Linked DNA regions of Homo sapiens. The protein of the gene in region 1 binds, or shares a complex with, the protein of each later gene. Each region holds a gene or a part of one and is shown on either strand. Other genes may lie near its edges. The genes, in order: TADA2B, TAF5 and TAF4.

Region 1 (7,885 bases):
CCAGAGCGGGCAGAGGCTAAATATGCCAAAGTGGGACACGCCAGCTCTGTGCACATAGCTGGATACATGCTCAGAAGAGCACCACCCATCTCAGAGCTGCAGAACAGCCTCAGAGGAAGAAAAATAAAGTCCCGGGGGATAACGCAACGAGGTTCTGCCAGGGAGATGGCAGCACGACCAAATACTGGTGCCTCACCACTCCGGGGGGGTGGGTGGTCACGGGCCAGTGCACCCCCTGAGTCCTGGTTGCAATGCAGGCTCTCAGGCCTCACCGTAACCTCGCGCTGGTGCAACGGGAGAACGCCCTGACCGCAGCCTGGCCAGGCTCGCTGTGCACCAAGTCCCAGCCCCATTCTCTTCCTGTCCTGGCTCTGCCTCCTCTACCAGCTGAGTCAGAATCTGCATTTTCACCAGCTCCCCAGGTGCTCTGTGTGCACATTCGTTCGGAAAGTATTGTTTTAGAAGAGGCCTCTCCACTTCTAGCCTGGTTTCTTCCAAAACCACATAGATGTTTTTGTTCCCCAGGTCTTGTGTTCTGTGTATTTTCCACAGTGCCGCAGGGAAGGCAGTGCAGACAGTGAAGTTAAGAGTACAGGCTCTGAAGTCAAACTGGTCCGTCCAAAGCCAACTGCCAAGGGCTGTCGGGAAAATGTCCTGAGATACGCACAGATATGCCACCAAGGCTCTGCGCCTCCTTAGCAGCTAACGTAGAGGTAAGTGCTGGGATGGTGAAGGGAAGGGCCCTCTGAGGCACTGATATTTAAGTGGAAAGCTCAATCCTGGGCCATGATTTACAGGGAGAGCACTCTAGGTAGAAGAAATATAAAACGATCAAGGGAGGTAACAGATGAGATCTCATTGCTCAACACTTCTAAAGCTGCCTTAATTGAAGTAAAAGCCACTGAGGCCGGTGTGAGGCGCTTTGTGCTTCCAAAGCTCGCTCCGGTTATGGTGTGTGGAATAGGGGAATGGGGTGGAGGGGGAATAACGAACAAGGAGGCTCCCAAAGTGGTCAAGGCAAGAAGTAAACGTAAACATCAGCCGGGACTACGGCTGTAAGAAGTGGTTTGTTCTGCATGTACTGTGAGGAGACAGCTGATAAATTGGATCAGGAACTTAGTGGAACAAGGAACTAAGAGAGGCAGGTAGGCCAGGGAGGCGGCTGGACATGGAGGGCTGGTGCTAGGGAAGAGCTCTGGGCCTAGGACCAAGTCAGTACCACACTTTAAGCTCCCTGAATGCAGGGATAAAGCCTTCTCTTTCCTTCAGAGTTCTCCGCCACTGTAGAATCCGCACAGAACACATGCTCAGTGCATATCCACAAACAGCATGGAAGGACAAGGTGGGACGGAGTTTCTGAAAAATGGAGATCCCAGTGCTGGTGGCCATTAGGTAAGGGTTTGTAAAGGAGCATCTTCTCTAAGGAGTTGGGAGGAGAATCAACATTCCAGGGCTTCAGAATGAGTATGTGAGGCGGCCCTGAGACTCACTCAGGAAAGGAAAGCAAAAGGCAATCAAAGCAGCCCAGGCAGGACTGCTGGAGAGGTGGCAGCGAGATGGATGCTGTTCCGAGAAGCAGGCACCTGGTGTAGCAGGGGAAGACTCTGGAAAGCTAAGGGCGCTGGGGGTGTCTCACTCCCCTCCTCCTCAGGGTGCCCGGGGATGGCCACATGTCTTTGGTGGTTATGAGCGGGAATACGGCTAGAGATTTTCTCCTTTCTAATACGGATGCAAGCTTCCAGAGTGGAAGGAGAGCTGAGAGACCGCCCAGAGAGAACCATGTTCCTCTCTCAAGGACAGAACCTAGCACACGATGTTGCTAGCGTAAGTGGATCCAGTCCAGCTCTCACCGCTCCCCACACAGGGCTGTCTCTACAGAAACCTCAAAGGTAAAGAGAGCAAAACCCAAGCCCCAGGCCTCCCAGGCCAGGCCTCTTTGTTCATTCTTTACTGACCATTCGCACAAGGTCGTGGGTTGTGGGGACCCAAGCATAAACCAGGCACGCTACCCACAAAAGACTCTGTGCACTGCGGACCACACAGGGCACATGCATACAGTGACAGAAAGCAAACGGGGCCGCCCCAGAGACCCCGAGACAAGCCGCAGGGCGCCCACCGCTCTCCTTCCCTGGTGCTCCCACCGCTTTCTGTCGAGTCTGTGGGCCTGCCTGTCTCCACGAACTCAGGTAAGGCACCGAGTCTTGCCCAACGTCTGCACTCCGCAAACGCCTGTGAAGGCGTCCCTGAAGGTGAGGGAAATGGCTCTGCTGTCAGAAGCCAGCGTTCAAAGCCCCACTCGGCCCCGTCTCGGCTGTGTGACCTTGGGCGCGTCACAGCCTCTCAGAGCATAGGTTCCGACAGGTGCCCGACTATAAACCGGCAGCGTCGCCCTCCCCACCTCCGGGGCCTTCTGGGGTGCGGAGCGAGCGAGCAGGTCCAGCGCTGCCTGCGCGCCCGATTACAGGAGAGGCGCGGGCCTTCCAGTGCCCTAGCCGGGACCCGGCCCCCGTCGCGCCGCTCACCCAGTTTCCGAAGCCGAACTGCTCGATGGCGTCCAGCAGCAGCTGCTCCTCGCGACTGGTCCAGCCGCCCTCGGCCTCGGGCCCCCAGAGCGTGAAGCGCCCGCCGTCCACCAGCTGGTAGCCGTGGTAGCGGCGGTGGTGGCCGATCTCGGCGCCGGCCGAGAAGCACTCGGGGCACAGCTCGATGTCCTGGCACTCGGTGCAGCGGAAGCGCAGCGGGCTCACCTCGGCCAGGCAGTACACGCAGTACTTCTTCCCCAGCTCCGCCATCTTCCCCCGCTCGCCGCCCGCCGCCCGGCCCGCCGCAGCCGCCGCGCCCCCGGCCGTCAGCGCCCCGCCGCCCGCGGGACCCGCCGCCGCCGCCGCGCACGAGCAACCGCCGCCCGCCGCCGCGGCTGCCGCCACCGCGGCCCCAGCCCAGCCGCCGCCAGAGCCAGCCAGCCGGGCCGCGTCCCCCCTCAGTACGCAGGCGCCGTCCGGCCCGGCCCGGCCGCCACCGCCGCCGCAGCTGTCGCCCCGCCGCATCGCGCAGGCGCCCCGCGGGCGCCACCTTGCGGACGCCCGGCCCGCCGCTCTGCGCCTGCGCGCCCCCCGCGCCGGCCACCGCCGCCTTTCCCAGAGCCTCCTGAACGCCCCGCCCCAGGCCCGGCGGTGGGAAATGGGCAGGCAGAAAGCCCGGCGGGGGCGCCACGCCCCTCGCGGCGAGAGCCCACGGCCGCTTCCAATCAATCTCGCCTATCGTCAGCTCGCGGCCTCCCATTGGCTTGCTCTCGCCGGGCAGCGGGGAGAAGGCGCTGGACGACGGCCTGTCGCCTGGCCAATCGCCGGGCCCAGCGCGCGCGCCTTCTGTTGCCCCGGGAAACCTAACAGCGTCCTGCCGGGGTCCGCTGCGCTGGCCGAGCCGGGAGGAGATGGACGTCAGCTCTGAGCACACTAAGGACCCCGGCGGGGAAGGCGGAGACGGGGAAAGCCTGGCCGCGCGGCCGTCCAAGATCAAGGCCAGCTCTGGCCCTCCGACCTCTCCCGAACCCGGGGAGCTGGAGTCGGAGCCGGAGGAGGAGGAGGAGGAGCAAGCGGCTTCGCAGGGAGGCACCGCCGCGGACGAGCAGGCCGAGGCCCCGAAAGGGCTAACGGCAGCCGAGGCTGCGGGCGAGGAGGGGCCTGGAGAGCCGGGGAGGCCGGCCGAGCCCCAGCCCGAGCCCGAAGAGCCGGCCGAGGTTGGGGCTGAGGAGCCCGCCCAGCCGGAGCCCGGAGCCGGGCCCGAGGAACTAGAGGCGGAGGCGGGGGCGGAGGAACTGGAGCAGGCGGCAGAGGGGAAGGAAGTCAGGTTCCAGGCCTCTCTGCCGCTGACCAGGATCGATGAGGAAGAGGCTGCTGCAGCCCCGGAGGCCGAGACAGAGCGGGTGGAGGGGGAGGAAGAGGACAAGGAGGAGACGCAGAGAGACGGCGCGGAGAGCAAGGAGAGGGATGGGGAAGGACGCCCGGCCAAAAGCCAGGAAGAGGGGAAGCGCCTCTATGGAAGGGACGAGTTTGAGGACCTCGAGTGGTCCGAGGAGGTCCAGAAGCTGCAGGAGCAGCAGCTGCGCAGCGACCTCCTGGACCAGTACCGTTCCCTGCTGGTGGAGCGGAACCGCTCCCAGCGCTACAACCTATACCTGCAGCACAAGATCTTCGAGGCGCTGCGCAGAAAGAAGGGCCTGGAGGCCGCTGAGGTGGCTGACCGGGGCGCAGAGGCCGAGGCCCCCGAGAAAGAGCAAGCGTACCTGCGCCATCTGGGCATGCTGGAGGAGCTGAAGAAGCAGCAGGCAGACGACCTGCAGTGGTACCACCAGGAGCTGGGCCAGTTGAAGCGGCAGTGCCAGGAGAAGCTCACCAGGGTGGAGAAGGAGTGGCGACGCTTCCAGGCACTCAAGAAGCAGGTGGTGATGCAGGCCATGGGCAGCTGTCGGATGAGGGGCGGGCGCCAGGCTGCTCTGCGAGAGGTGGAGCAGATCCAGGCGTTGGAGGATAAAAAGGAGAAGGAGATGAGCGCCGTGCGGCTGGAGAACATTCAGCTGAAGCAGAGCCTGGTGCATTTTGAAACCAGGATGAGGACCCAGGAGGACCTGACCCAGGGTCTGCTTCTTATTGACTTTGAACAGCTGAAGATTGAGAACCAAACCTTCAATGAGAAAATTGAGGAACGAAATGAGGAACTTTTAAAACTTCGCAGCAAGGTGACCAACAGTGTGCAAGTAATAACCCACGTGAAGGAAAAGCTGCACTTCATGGACATGGAGAACGCGTGCAAAAAGACACAGCTGGCAGAAATCGAGGCCCAGGCCGCCCTAGGAAGAGACATCCTGACCAAGACGAAGCAAGCCCGAGAGGGGCTGCGGACGGACAACATCAGACTGAATCAGAAGTGCGGCCTTCTAGGCAAGGACTCACTTCTTCGGGACTTGGAAGAAAAGGTGGACAAGACCGAACTGCTTCACCGGCGCCTGGAATCCCTGAAGCGCCACCACGCTAGCCTCACTTTGTCCTGCAGAGGCGTGAGGCAGAAGATCAGGGAGGCCAAAGCCTTTCTCCCTTCTTGACCAGATCGATGAGAAGAGTCTGCAAAACACTTCATCCTCAGGACGTGCTGTCCTGCTTTATTTTACCTTCGTTGCTATTAAAAAGGCCTGTGTCATTTGGGACGGGACTCTATTTTGTATTTATCTCAAAACGTTTTAGCTTCCAAATCAGTGCTGAGCCCAAACCTGGGTTAGGAGTTTTATCTGGGATTGAGCAAAAATAGGTCCAGAAAAGCAAACAAAGGGTGATTTAATGTAACTGACTTCTCATGAAAAACTGTCAAAAGTCTCAAGTCTGAGCAATTCTATAATTTCAGTGATGTAATACTAAAGAGTACTGTTCCTCTTTCATATGTAGGAGGGTTTAAAAGTTCAGCGAATGGGCAAGGTACAAAAAAACCCTGTGCATTAAGCTAATTATTAAATTCTTTGGATTTATTAAATTATGTAGTCCCGAGACACTGTTTCAGTTAGAAGCTCACTAATCCCCTTAGATTAATCTTAAATTTAAGTGATTTTGGGCCGGGCTAGGTGGCTCACCTCTATAATCCCAGCATTTTGGGAGGCCGAGGTGGGCAGATCGTGAGGTCAGGAGATCGAGACCATCCTGGCTAACACGGTGAAACCCCATCTCTACTAAAAATACAAAAAATTAGCCAGACCTGGTGGCGGGCGCCTGTAGTCCCAGCTACTCGGGAGGCTGGGGCAGGAGAATGGTGTGAACCCTGGAGGCAGAGCTTGCAGTGAGCTGAGATCGCACCACTGCACTCCAGCCTGGGCGACAGAGCGAGACTCTTGTCTCAAAAAAAAATTTTTTTTATATGTGACTAGCACGAGCTTAGGGGGCAATAAAAATATCCAGGAAACAGGAGAGATGATAAACAGGAGAGGAGCTGATGTTTCTTCATCGTCCCTTTTTCAATGAAAGGGAGTTCAGTCTACTCACTGTTGATGGTTGTTTCTGCTTCAATGACAGTCTTCAATTATTATTATTATTATTATTATTATTATTATTATTATTATTATTATTATTTTCCTTGGGACAGGGTCTCTGTCTCCCTGGCTGGAGTGCAGTGACAGGATCTCGGCTCACTGCAACCTCCACCTCCCGGGTTCAAGCGATTCTCCCGCCTTAACCTCCTAGGTGGCGGGGATTACAGGCACAGGCCACCATGCCCAACTAATTTTTGTATTTTTAGTAGAGATGAGGTTTCACCATGTTGGCCAGGCTGGTCTCGAACTCCTGGCCTCAAGTGATACACCTGCCTCGGCCTCCCAAAGTGCTGGGATTACAGGCGTGAGCCACCGTGCCTGGCCTGACAGTGTTCAAGTCTAATGAAACATGTTCTTGGATCCTCTGAAGAAATGCATTAATCTGTACCAAAAAATGAAATTTTGGCCCGGGCGCGGCGGCTCACGCCTGTAAATCCCAGCACTTTGGGAGGCCGAGGCGGGTGGATCACGAGGTCAGGAGGTCGAGACCATCCTGGCTAACACGGTGAAACCCCGTCTCTACTAAAAATACAAAAAAAAAAATTAGCCGGGCGTGGTAGCGGGCGCCTGTAGTCCCAGCTACTCGAGAGGCTGAGGCAGGAGAATGGCGTGAACCCGGGAGGCGGAGCTTGCAGTGAGCCAAGATAGTGCCACTGCAGTCCAGCTTGGGCGAAAGAGCGAGACTCCGTCTCAAAAAAAAAAAAAAAAACTGAAATTTTGTTTTCCAGTGAAAACAAAATGACAGTTGTATTGCATGCTTTGCAAGGTGTAAAATATATTACACGGTGGCTGCTGGCATCACAGGAGACAGAGCCTTCTGTATCAGTCTATTTCAGATCTCGACAACAGGGCCCTTGCTATACACGAGTTCATTGAGTATCAAATAGTAAAATGCCCCTTATTCCTTGTGTCAAAAATACCTGGTAGGTCTGTTTCCTTAATGCAATATCAGTGATTATCTTGGAGCTAGGGGCTTGTTTTCATTTCTTCTTAATCCTAGATTGAATTTTGAGATGTGCAGATTTGGGGTTAAACATATTCTCCCACTCCTACACTTAAGTGAATCATAAAAAAATGCAACACGGTTTTTGGTGCTGGCTACCTCTGAAGAACGGTGGGAACCCAACTCTGGGCAGGGGACTTGGTTGTGAACGTTATCTTTGGATGCCATGATTTTGTGTTTTTTTTCTTTTTTTTTTTTTTTTTTTGAGACGGAGTCTCACTCTGTCTCCCAGGCTGGAGAGTGCCGTGGCATGATCTCAGCTCACTGCCACCTCCACCTCCCGGGTTCAAGCGATTCTCCTGGCTTAGCCTCCCGAGTAGCTGGGATTACAGGCGCCCGCCAGCACATCTGGCTAATTTTTTGTATTTTTTAGTAGAAACGGGGTTTCACCATATTGGCCAGGCTGGTCTCAAACTCCTGACCTCATGATCCGGCCGCCTCGGCCTCCCAAAGTGCTGGGATTTACAGGCATGAGCCACCACGCCCGGCCATGATTTTGTTTTGTAAAGTGTGCTCCCTTGGAAGCCAATGAAGGTTGATTAAAATTCCTTTTCTAACTTTCATGGCTCGAATACACTTTTTTAAATCAAACCACTCAAAAGTAGTAATGAGTTAAAAAGCTTTAGGCCGGTCGCCATGGCTCACACCTGTAATCCCAACATGTTGGGAGGTCAAGGCAGGTGGACCACTTGAGCCCAGGAGTTTGAAACCAGCCTGGGAAACATCACAAAACCCTATCTCTATAAAAATACAAAAAGATTAGCCGGGTGTGGTGGTACATGCCTGTGGTCTCAGTGCCTCAGGAGGCT
Region 2 (7,168 bases), on another chromosome or scaffold:
TGATACAAAAACTTAGGGAAAATCAGAGTTCTTTACAAGAAAAAAATAGCAGGGGTAATTAACAAAGTATAGTCAAATAAGGTCAATTGAGAAAGTTTAAGAAATGTGATATGTCACTTAAAACTCAACAATTTTTGACCCTAAAATAAAGATGCTATTTTCCCATGCTGTGTAAGCTATGTAAGAATTAAAAAGGAAATGTCTTTTGAAGAAAAAGAAAAAAAAACTACAGACATGCTAATAATTCTCTACCTTTTTCAAGCATAAACACAAAAGATTGATAGTCAGAAGGTTATTACAATTTTCACTGAAATCAGACGTTTCCCTCAAAAATGTATCATCTGGCAAAACCTTATCAAGCAACAAAAAACCTAATTCTCAAAGTTTCGTAATGATGAAACCTTGATGGATGGAAAGCTATTATCTTTTTTTCTTTTCTTCTTTTTTTGAGATGGAGTTTTGCTCTTATCACCCAGGCTGGAGTGCAGTGGTGCAATCTCGGCTCATTGCAACCTCTGCCTCCCATGTTCAAGTGACTTTCCTGCCTCGGCCTCCCAAGTAGCCAGGATTACAGGTGGGCGCCACCACACCCTGCTAATTTTTGTACTTTTTAGTGGAGACAGGATTTCCCATGTTGGCCAGGCTGGTCTCAAACTCCTGATCTCAGGTGATGCGCCTGTCTTGGACTCCCAAAGTGCTGGGATTATAGGCGTGAGCCACTGTGCCCGGCCTGAAAGCTATTATCTATCCAAGTAATATACTGATGGTATTATGAATACAAAACACCCTCCACCCATTTTTACAGTGTTAGAGATCATGAAAAATAGGCAAATACCTATACACATAGGATGACATTGTAATCATACACCTAAAGGGAAGCAAACCAATTTTGAATTTCCTTTTTCATTTACTCTTAGTACTTTTGATTATAGAAAGATTAATCCTCAATTACTAGCTAATATGCCATTAATGTCAGGAATTTGTCTTAAATTTGATGAAGCAGCCAGAAGACACAATGCAGGGACCCAATGAAGCAATTCAACCCCTAATGGAGTTCTATAAAACTAAAGCTTTGGTTGGTTATTTACCATTGGGTAACAAATAAAAATAATTAAAAAAAAAAAAGGGAAATACTAAAGCTAATTTTTAAAACCAGTAAGCCCTGAAACTGTGCATTTTGATTCTATAAATTTGAGTATACAGGCCAGGCACAGTGGCTCACGCCTGTAATCCCAGCACTTTGGGAGGCTGAGGTGGGCAGATCACCTGAGGTTGAGAGTTCAAGACCAGCCTGACCAACATGGAGAAACCCCATCTCTAATAAAAAAATAAAATTAGCCAGGTGTGGTGGCGCATGCCTGTAATCCCAGCTACTCAGGAGGCTGAGCCAGGAGAATCGCTTGAACCCAGGAGGCGGAGGTTGCGGTAAGCCAAGATCACGCCATTGCACTCCAACCTGGGCAACAAGAGCGAAACTCTGTCTCAAAAAAAAAAAAAAAAAAGTGAGTATACATTAAATTGCTACCATGTACAAACACCAGGATTCAAAGATGAATTAGCAAATGGCAAGATTCTAAAAGATGATGAACGTCAGACAACCATGAGATTTTTATCAGAATTTTCCCAGCATTTGCATAATGTTTCCAGTAGTTAACTTTTATATAATTTCAATATAACATAGCAGTATTTAATTTTTATTGTTTGTATTTTACCTATCCGGACTGAAGCTGGCTCCGTAGACAGGCCCACTGTGACCATACAAAATCTTCAACTCACTTGCTGTTTTCTCATCCATGATTCTTTCTAAGACATCATCTGATTCTTTGTCTATAAGACTAAGATCTAAAATGGTCCAGAAATATTGATATTTTATAAGTACATTCATCAAAACTTTTAAAGTAATCATATCACAGTGCAGGAGAGGAATTAACATTTGAAAATTTCCTCCTATATACCAACCGCACTTTGCTAATCCCTCTAAATTAGGCAGTATCATCTCAGCGTGTAAGAGAAGAAAATGACGTTCAGAACAGATAATTTGCTAGAGTGCACACAGCTACTCAGTGTGGGAACCAGAACTGAAACTCAGTTTTGCCCACTATGCCACAGTGTTTCACAAAATGAAAACTATGGGCCAGGCATGGTGGCTCACACCTGTAGTCTCAGAATTTTGGTAGGCCAAGGCGGGCAGATTGCTTGAGCCCAGAGGAGTTCGAGACCAGCCTGGACAACATGGAGAAACCCTGTCTCTACAAAAAATAAAAAATTAGCCAGTGTGGTTGCACACACCTGTAGTCTCAGCTACTCAGGAGGCTGAAGTGGGAGGATCACTTCAGCCCAGGGATTAGAGGCTGCAGTGAGCCGTGATCACACCACTGCATTCTAGCCTGGGCAACAGAGTGAGACCCCATCTAAAAAAAATTTAAAATTAAAAAAAAAAAACCTATGGAAATATTGAAATAATTTAAAATATATTGTTTTATTTAAATAATATAGTTAGTAAAAAACTTTATTTCAGGCCGGGTGTGGAGGCAGGAAAATCGCTTGAACCAGGGAGGTGGAGGTTGCAGTGAGCCACCTATAATTCCAGCACTTTGGGAGGCCAGACAGGCGGATCACTTGAGGTCAGGAGTTCGAGACCAGCCTGGCCAACATGGCGAAACCCTATCTCTACTAAAAATACAAAAATTACCTGGGCATGGTGGTGGGCACCTGTAATCCCAGCTACTGGGGAGCTGGGGAGCTGACACAAGAAAATCCCTTGAACCTGGGAGGTAGAGGCTGTAGTGAGCCAAGACTGCGCCATTGCACTCTAGCCTGGGTGACAGGGCGAGACTCTGTCTCAAAAAAACAAAAAGTAAAAAACTTTCAAATAAAATCCTGACCTTATTTGTTCTTTTTAGCCATTTTTATGACTAAAACAGGAAGTACCATCCCTTATTTAAAGATTTTTTAAGATTTACAAGCAATCATAAAATGTTAGATTTTTAACTTTAAGTTTTTTAGCTTAATACTCACTCATTCTACAGATGAGAAAACTGAGACCTAAAGAAATTAAACCAGTCTAGCACCCCAGTCACTCCAAAGCTTTTTTCACTGTTGGGAATGTTAGAATCTTGAGTTAAAGTAAAATCAAGTGAATTTCTGTAAAGAACACAATCTCCTGTGTATTTTCCATGGAATCAAGATTGGTATAGACTAATGGCAAGTTCACATTCCAAAAGGTCATCTCAGTTACCTGATGCTTGTTTGACACTACGAAGCTTTTTGGGTGTTACCGACCACACTCTGACAGTTGAATCTGCAAAACCTCCAGCAATCAGACTAGAATCATCAGTGACATCCACTGCAGTGAGACCCTGCCAATAAAAGGGTTAGACTAAACAATACTATTTTAGGATATTTAGAGATAGGAAGCAAATGTTAATCATTTTCACACTATACTAAATATCTCCTCAATCCTCTATTTTAAGGAATATATAAAGACTTTTAAAATTCTTGATTTAAAATATTGGCCAAGCGCACTGGCTCATGCCTGTAATCCCAACAATTTGGGAGGCTGAGACAGGTGGATCACCTGAGGTTAGGAGTTCAAGACCAGCCTGGCCAACATGGTGAAACCCCATCTCTACTAAAAATACCAAAATTAGCCAAGCAGGGTGGTGGGCACCTGTAATCCCATCTACTTGTGAGGCTGACGCAAGAGAATCACTTGAACCCAGGAGGCAGAGGTTGCAGTGAGCCAAAATCGTGCCACTGCACTCCAGCCTGGGCGACAGAGTGAGACTCCATCTCAAAAAAAAAATAATAATAAAATAAAATACTAAGTTTGGCCGGGCGCGGGGGTTCATGCCTGTTATCACAGCACTTTAGGAGGCTGAGGCGGGTGGATTGCCTGAGCTCAGGAATTCAAGTCCAGCCTGGTCAACCTGGTGAAACCCCTTCTCTACTGAAAATACAAAAATTAGCTGGGCGTGGTGGCTCATGCCTATAATCCCAGCTACTCAGGAGGCTGAGGCAGGAGAATCACTTGAACTGGGAGGCGGAGGTTGCAGTGAGCCAAAATTGCACCACCGCACTCCAGCCTAGGTGTCAGAGCAAGACTCCATCTCAAAAAATGAAATTAAATTAAAATAATAAAATAAAATAAGGTTTATATGGCTGGGCACGGTGGCTCACGCCTGTAATCCCAGCACTTTGGGAGGCTGAGGCGGCCAGATCACTTGAGGTCAGGAGTTCAAGACCAGCCTGGGCAACACGGCAAAATCCTGTCTCTACTAAAAATACAAAAATTAGCCAGGCATGGTGGAGGGTGCCTGTAATCCCAGCTATTCAGGAGGCCGAGGCTGAGGCACAAGAATCGTTTGAACCCGGGAGGCAGAGGTTGCAGTGAGCTGAGATCTCACCTCTGCACTCCACCCTAGGTGACAGCACAAAACTCTGTCTCAAAAAAAAAAAAAAATTGATAAATAAGTTTACGTAAGTACTTAAACCAAGTTCAACAGAAATGAACTACAATTTGCTCCTCCTCAAAGGCTAGCAGAATTCTGATCGGTGAAACAAATGCCATTAAACATTGACTTCTATCTATTCTGTGCAGTATCCAATTCTCTCTTCCTGAATGCTGTCTTTAAATTGTATAAGAGTTTAGGGGCCACATGCGGTGGCTCATGCCTGTAATCCCAGCACTTTGGGAGGCTGAGGCAGGCGGATCACAAGGTCAGGAGATCGAGACCATCCTGGCTAACACGGTGAAACCCCATCTCTACTAAAAATACAAAAAATTAGCCGGGCATGGCGGTATGCGCCTGTAGTCCCAGCTGCTGGGGAAGCTGAGGCAGAAGAATGGCATGAACCTGGGAGGCGGACATTGCAGTGAGCTGAGATCGCGCCACTGCACTCCAGCTGGGCGACAGAGCGAGACTCTGTCTCAGAAAAAAAAAAAAAAGGAGTTTAAATAACGAAACTCCATTTTAGCTAATACATTTGTTTCTCTCTTAATGGTAAATCATCATCCTACATGACTCTCCAGGCAGAAATCGCCCAATTTTTTTACCAACCTGGTAAGCATTGAGAAATGTATAGAAACAAATGGAGGGTAAGCAGTCCGGCCCAAGGCGCACTCGTTTGGTGGTTTCTTTCATATTCATTATCTTATCCAACTTATCTGAATCTTTCAACTCAGGAAGAGGGATTCTGTGAAAGAAAAAGAGAGTCAAAATTACCTTTTGACTATTAACAAACTTGAACTCTATATAACATGTTGTCTTATACCTCCACACACAAGTTCCTGAAGTTTTTTCCTCACCTGTTCTGAGGTGGAGCATTGGGATCTTGTTTTTTGCTTTTGGATCCAATACTATCTTTTTTAGGCTTCTTCTTTTTAGGTTTTCCTTCTTCATTTTCTCCCTCTTCATCCTCGTCATCCAAAGGTACCTCAATTTCTGGTTCTTTTAATAAACCAAAAAATACCTACAAGTCAAAAGAGCCAACATTTTTAAAATTATTTATTCATTAATATACCCATTTTACATCTTGATAGGATAAATCACAATTACAAAATAGTAATTTACACTCTGAAGCAGGGTTCTGTATTTGTCTACCCAATAGCCATTCTCCCCTTTTTCCTTACTAACAGAACCCTGATTTTATTGGAGTAGCAATGTGCTCAGTTAAATCATTTCTGTTCCCAGGCTCCCTTTCAGCTAGGAATGTCCATATAAGTATACTGGGTATGGTTGTATCAAAAAAATATTGTTTTCCTGATTAAAAAGGGAAAGCTTCAGCAGAGATATGCCTTTTGTCCTCCCCCTTCTTCCTTCTTGGAACGGAGCTGCAATGCTGAAACTGCAACAGCCATTTGTGAGCACAAAGAGGAAAGCCACATTCTGAAGATGGTGGATCAGAAACCAGAAGGAGCCAGGGACCTTGATGGCACTGTGGAGCCTTCATGCCAGCCCTGGAAGGCCTTCCTCTGAAATTCATTTTATGGGAGAAAAATTCTTTGTTTCAGCCACTGCATTCAGGGTTCCATAAAATGCAACCATACCCAAATTGTCACATATAAACATCACCCTTAGAACACAAAATTTTATATACAGTATAAAATTGTTTCCAAGCGGCCAGGCGCAGTAGCTCACGCCTGTTATGCCAGCACTTTGGGAGGCGGAGTCGGGTGGATCATCTGAGGTCAGGAGTTCGAGACCAGCCTGGCCAACATGGTGAAACCCTGTCTCTACTAAAGTAAATACAAAAATTAGCCAGGTTGGTGGCGTGTGCCTCTAATCCCAGCTACTCGGGAAGCTGAGGCAGGAGAATCACTTGAACCCAGGAGGTGGAGGTTGCAGTGAGCTGAGATCACGCCACTGCACTCCAGCTTGGGTGACAAGAGCAAAACTCCGTCTCAAAACAAACAAACGAAAAAAATTGTTTCCAAGCTAGCTATAAGAAAAATGTGTAACTTATGTAGATGGAAATGCTACAATTTTTCATAATCTGCATTATAGAGTTCTTAGGTTCATTCCCATACCTTTGATTTGTTTGCCTCTCGTTTAGCCTCTCCTGCCAAACTTCCCACCATCGCATCTATCTGTTGCTTACTACGCGGCATCCCATCAAAGATGTCAATGTAGAGGTGCTCCTGAACTATGTTCCATATCTGATTGTTCTGTTTCTCCTGAAGATGCCTCTTCAAGAGTTGGTACGAGTCACGGGAAATACGCAGAACAAATTTACTTGTTCGAAAATCCAACATGGTCTCATTCCCTTTCATGTGTTCCTTTTTGGTAAGACTAGATAATACTCGTAGGTCATCCTGGTAATAACATTCCTGATCTCCATGGAACCTGTTTCAGTGATTTTAAAAAGTCATTTTTCAATGTAATCATTAAGGGATCTGCCTTTCCCCCATATACTTATAAACCATCCCAGAATATTTTCAATGTAGTAGTCTAAATAATCCTGAACTAAGCTGTAGGATAAGAAGTAACTCATTTCAAAATGACTATAATTCAGTTTCTGAATTTATTCTAAAAATGAACAAATGTAATTCTCTAATGAAATGTATCACAAACATTTTAAGAAAAGAACTTAAATATCCTAAGTGAAAAATAATATACCCACCATTGGTAGACAGTTTCTTTAGAATGGAGACATTTAAAAGAAACTG
Region 3 (4,752 bases), on another chromosome or scaffold:
GAGTGTGCCATGTAGAGAAAGGCAATTGGAGTATCAGGTAGGTTAGATTTGCGTTTTTCTTTTAAGATTTAAGAAAAATTTGAAGAAAAATTTGTATTGATAAAACTCACAGAATCTGGAGAAGTTATATTGTTCATTCATAGTGCACCTTCAGAGCTTGGTGCAGAAGCAGGGCCTGGCATCAGTTTCTCAGCGTGCTGGGCCCTGGGGGTGGCCTCAGCCCCAAGGAGGCACCGTCTGGCCTTGGTTGGTCTCGCCCCCTCCCTTGGTTGGTCTCGCCCCCGGCCTTGGTTGGTCTCGCCCCCGGCCTTGGTTGGTCTCGCCCTCGGCCTTGGTTCGTCTTGCCCCCGGCCTTGGTTGGTCTCGCCCCCTCCTTTGGTTGGTCTCGCCCCCGGCCTTGGTTGGTCTCACCCCCTCCTTTGGTTGGTCTCGCCCCCGGCCTTGGTTGGTCTCGCGCCCTCCCTTGGTTGGTGTCGCGCCCTCCCTTGGTTGGTGTCGCGCCCTCCCTTGGTTGGTGTCGCGCCCTCCCTTGGTTGGTCTCGCCCCCTCCCTTGGTTGGTGTCGCGCCCTCCCTTGGTTGGTGTCGCGCCCTCCCTTGGTTGGTGTCGCGCCCTCCCTTGGTTGGTGTCGCGCCCTCCCTTGGTTGGTGTCGCGCCCTCCCTTGGTTGGTGTCGCGCCCTCCCTTGGTTGGTGTCGCGCCCTCCCTTGGTGTCGCGCCCTCCCTTGGTTGGTCTCGCGCCCTCCCTTGGTTGGTCTCGCGCCCTCCCTTGGTTGGTCTCGCGCCCTCCCTTGGTTGGTCTCGCGCCCTCCCTTGGTTGGTCTCGCGCCCTCCCTTGGTTGGTCTCGCGCCCTCCCTTGGTTGGTCTCGCGCCCTCCCTTGGTTGGTCTCGCGCCCTCCCTTGGTTGGTGTCGCGCCCTCCCTTGGTTGGTCTCGTGCCCTCCCTTGGTTGGTGCTGACACTTGCGTTAGAATATCTTGATTTCTTACCCTCGGCAGCCTTTAAATTGAGCACCTGAGATGAGCGTCTCTCCTTCACCCCGGTCCTCTTTTTTAGCTGCTGAACTATTTTGAAGATAGAAACATCAAACACAGTCCGGAATTTATAGCAGGTGTCACTGGGTCACACAGCCTGTTTGGGTGGTGCCTGTGAGAGCCCTGCCCTCACCCTGCAAACTGTCACTCACCTCGCCTGAGTTCTCTTTTGGGAGGCCTGGCCCTCAGGTGCGGATCACTTTATAATGAGCTAGTGTGGAGTGCGGAGGCTTCAGTAGCAAAGGGACCCCGGGCAGGTCTGAAGAAGGGCCCTCACAGCGCAGGGCGTCTGAACGGAGACAGGTGCCCTCATCTGTTTGAATCTCACAGGAATAAAGAAAATGCAGTGGGTCAGAGACACACTTGCATGCCATCACACAAGGCAGCCATGCTCCCAGCCTGAACTGAAAGTGGCAGAACGGGGAAGGGGGGAGGAAGGACGGCATGAGGGGCGGGGCCATGTCAGGGCTGTTCACAGCAAGGCTCCCACTGGCACACACAGCAGAATCCGCTCCTTCCAGCATCTTAACTTTGGTTGAGAATGTGCTGTAAAGATGCCATCGTAATCTTTGTACTTAAATATATGTGAGCAGCTTTCACCATCGGAGCAGAACTTAGTTTTCATGCCAGCTGGGGGAAATGACAGCTGTTGGGAGTTGTGTGGCACGTGCCCCGCTGGGCGGTGTCGTGTGTGTGTGGTGCGCGCCCCGCTGGGCGGTGTTGTGTGTGTGTGGCGCGCGCCCCGCTGGGCGGTGTCGTGTGTGTGGCTCGTGCCCCGCTGGGCGGTGTCGTGTGTGTGGCGCGTGCCCCGCTGGGCGGTGTCGTGTGTGTGGCGCGTGCCCCGCTGGGCGGTGTCGTGTGTGTGGCGTGTGCCCCGCTGGGCGGTGTCGTGTGTGTGGCGCGTGCCCTGCTGGGCGGTGTCATGCAGGTGTCATCAGCTGAAACCGCCAGAGCTCTCCACAGGAGCTGGCACGCAGCAGCTATGCTTCTCCAAGCAGGAACACATCTGAGGCAGCTCGGGAGACACCTGGTCACCTGTAGGGGCTGACGGAGGCGGCGTCTGTGCAGCCAGGGCCCAGCCAGAGGCTCAGGGATCACTGTGGGAGCCACTGAGAAACCCAGCCTTCCCAGCTGACCCAGCATGCCCAGTCCCAGCCAACCCCAGGCCTCCCAGTGCAGGAATTCAGCAGCCAAGCGGGGATGACACACACAGACCTAGTGTGGCTTTTGTGCCCCAGCTGAGTCCACAGGCAGTCCAGCTGTGGTCACATGGAGGGTGGCCCTGGGGCCGCTCAGCCATTTGCCTTGGGTGGGTGCCACCCCCTAGTCCATCCTCAGCCCCAGGACCAGGTCCAAGCACTGTGGGGCATTGGGCAGCATCTGAGTGTGCCCTGTCCTGAAGGTGCAGCATGGGGCCTCCTGCCCTTGCCCCTGCCCTGGCAGGGCCCTGGACAGCACCCCAGCTCCAGCTGTGGGCCTACCGGAAGGAGCCCGTGCCAGGCCTGGCCTCCTCTGGAATCGGGGTACTTGGCTCAGATACACAGGCTCATTGCAAGCCCCACTCTGAGCCCCACTAACACACTGTCTTCTCCTTTTTCATCACCAGGGGTCGGGCCCCGGCTCAGTGGTCCCAGGCAGCTCGGGTGTCGGAACCCCCAGACAGTTCACGCGACAAAGAATCACGCGGGTCAACCTCAGGGACCTCATATTTTGTTTAGAAAATGAACGTGAGACAAGCCATTCACTGCTGCTCTACAAAGCATTCCTTAAGTGACACAGGAGGACGCCTGGGGACTTTTTATATATTTGCAGATTACGCCTTTTTGTAACGAGCAAATGGGATATTGTTTAAAAAACAGCCACCTCTTTACAATGGAACAGTTTTATATTCCTGTTTCTAAATCAGCTCTTCAGTGTGAAAGAAAACACGTTTCTGTAACAGAGAGAACACAAAGGCCTGTGGATACTCTTAAAGGACAATTAAATCTTAACTCATCTTGATTGAGTGGCCTTCCTGCCAAACAAGCCATATATAAAGACTGATGGAATCGTTAGCAAATAATTAGCTGCCCTCTGTCAACTCATAGCAGTTTCTGCATTATTTGTGCATTTTGGTTTAGTTCTACCTAACTTACTATGTAGGTGTATGTCTACAGCCGATGACCTCATTTCGTTTATTTTATTTTTGTAATAGTCAGTTGGCAAAGCAAACTGATTTTTTAGACTATTTATCTTCCTTCCCTTCCCCTCCCACCCCGCTCTCCTCTCTGCCCCCTGCCCTCCCCTCCCCTCCCTTCCCCTCCACTCCGCTGAGAATCCTGGAGGAATACACAATTCATCGTTGCACCCCCACCTCAGAGTGTAATCGCATTTCTGCTTGGTAGAGGCCGAGCCCAGCAAAGGTGGCTCCTTCTGAATGTGTGGTCAGCATCTGTACAAATGCATTTTATTTGCTATAGTTTGTAAAGCTGTAAAGTTAAAAGAGATGAAAACCTTTTCAGCATAAATATATTTTACTTGCACTGTGTTTTTTAGCTAAAAGTGAAAACCTAGATTAAATAAAATCAAAGTTGAGAAGAATCATCAAAAGACTGTTTCTCGGTGTGAATCAAGTGTTGAAAAATGGTTGGTGTATTTTGTCAGTAATTGTACATAACTTTTGGCACATGACATAGAAATGGCTATGTAAACTATAATTATTTTGCTAAGAGACTGTATGCAAGCCTTGGGCCGACTTTACAGACGTCCAGAGCAAAGCCCCTTCTTTGTACCTATTTTTTTATTACAAATATACTAATTGGTTCTTTCTATTTTCAGAGGTTATTGTATGAAATTGTCTATTGATAGTACTTTTATGACTGTAAATACTCTGGCTTTCTCCGTGTGAATTCTCACATTAGACTTTAATTCGAGCGCGTGTGAACTGAACGCTGATCAGTATTTTTTATCAACACCTGAGAACTGTTACACCTTTTATTTTGTCTTTTAGGAAATCCCTGTCTTTCCATTTTTTCATGTAAATTTTGCACAGTTACTTGTTCATATGTAAATATTTTACTTTCAGAAATGAAGTTTTTAATTGCTATTGTTTTATATAGGATTGAAAGAAAATTAACTCCTTTATTAAAAACAAATTTATCTGTATTTGTTTTGCCTATTTTTCCTCCGTTTTCCAGTTTTAGATTCTACTGCCAGATTGCACTCCGGCTCTGCTGAGGTGCTGGTTTCTGAGCCACCTGTTGGAATCTGTAGCTGAGCCCCATCAGAGCCGGGAGAAAGAACTTTCTCTGTGAGGACAGGGGCCGAGCTACTCTCTGCGTGGAGTCTGGGGGCTGGCGGCTGCGCTTAACACCTTCTGCTGTCACAGGTGGAGATGAGCTGGGCACAGCTAGGAGGGGCGGCGGGAGGCCCAGTGCTGGGGGAGATGTACACAGAAACGCACGTGGCGAGCCCGGCTGAGGTGCCCAGAGGGCCCCAGCCTTGACGCAGACCTCCTGTGGCGAGAGAGGGCGTCTCCAGGGCAGTTTGTGGTATTGGTTGGTCCTGACAGGTCACAGCTCCTGCTGGGCCCTCAGAGGCTCAGCGCCAATGTGTACCGCTCCCTGCCTTCGAGCACCTTGGAGAGCCTTTGGGAACGGTCTCTGATGCAATTGGAGTTGGTCTCCCATTGTGACGTTCACTCCACCTACTGTGACGGACCCACAGCGATATGCAGGTTTA

The links.
Region 2: TADA2B (region 1) and TAF5 share a complex: the UniProt entries of both Homo sapiens proteins name them as parts of the TFTC-HAT complex.
Region 3: TADA2B (region 1) and TAF4 share a complex: the UniProt entries of both Homo sapiens proteins name them as parts of the TFTC-HAT complex.

Annotation. Positions count from the first base shown.
Region 1 is NC_000004.12:7,038,487-7,046,371, reverse strand, and holds the start of TADA2B (transcriptional adapter 2-beta), read right to left. Parts: upstream 3,001-7,885; 5' UTR 2,793-3,000; coding exon 2,523-2,792; intron 1,393-2,522; exon of another isoform or gene 1,270-1,392; intron 714-1,269; exon of another isoform or gene 141-713; intron 1-140. Other genes in the region: CFAP184 (cilia- and flagella-associated protein 184), read left to right, coding at 3,434-5,101. UniProt on the Homo sapiens protein: Coactivates PAX5-dependent transcription together with either SMARCA4 or GCN5L2.
Region 2 is NC_000010.11:103,377,912-103,385,079, reverse strand, and holds part of TAF5 (transcription initiation factor TFIID subunit 5), read right to left. Parts: intron 6,846-7,168; coding exon 6,530-6,845; intron 5,473-6,529; coding exon 5,309-5,472; intron 5,197-5,308; coding exon 5,061-5,196; intron 3,360-5,060; coding exon 3,239-3,359; intron 1,843-3,238; coding exon 1,713-1,842; intron 1-1,712. UniProt on the Homo sapiens protein: The TFIID basal transcription factor complex plays a major role in the initiation of RNA polymerase II (Pol II)-dependent transcription.
Region 3 is NC_000020.11:61,974,222-61,978,973, reverse strand, and holds the end of TAF4 (transcription initiation factor TFIID subunit 4), read left to right. Parts: intron 1-2,638; coding exon 2,639-2,806; 3' UTR 2,807-4,176; downstream 4,177-4,752. UniProt on the Homo sapiens protein: The TFIID basal transcription factor complex plays a major role in the initiation of RNA polymerase II (Pol II)-dependent transcription.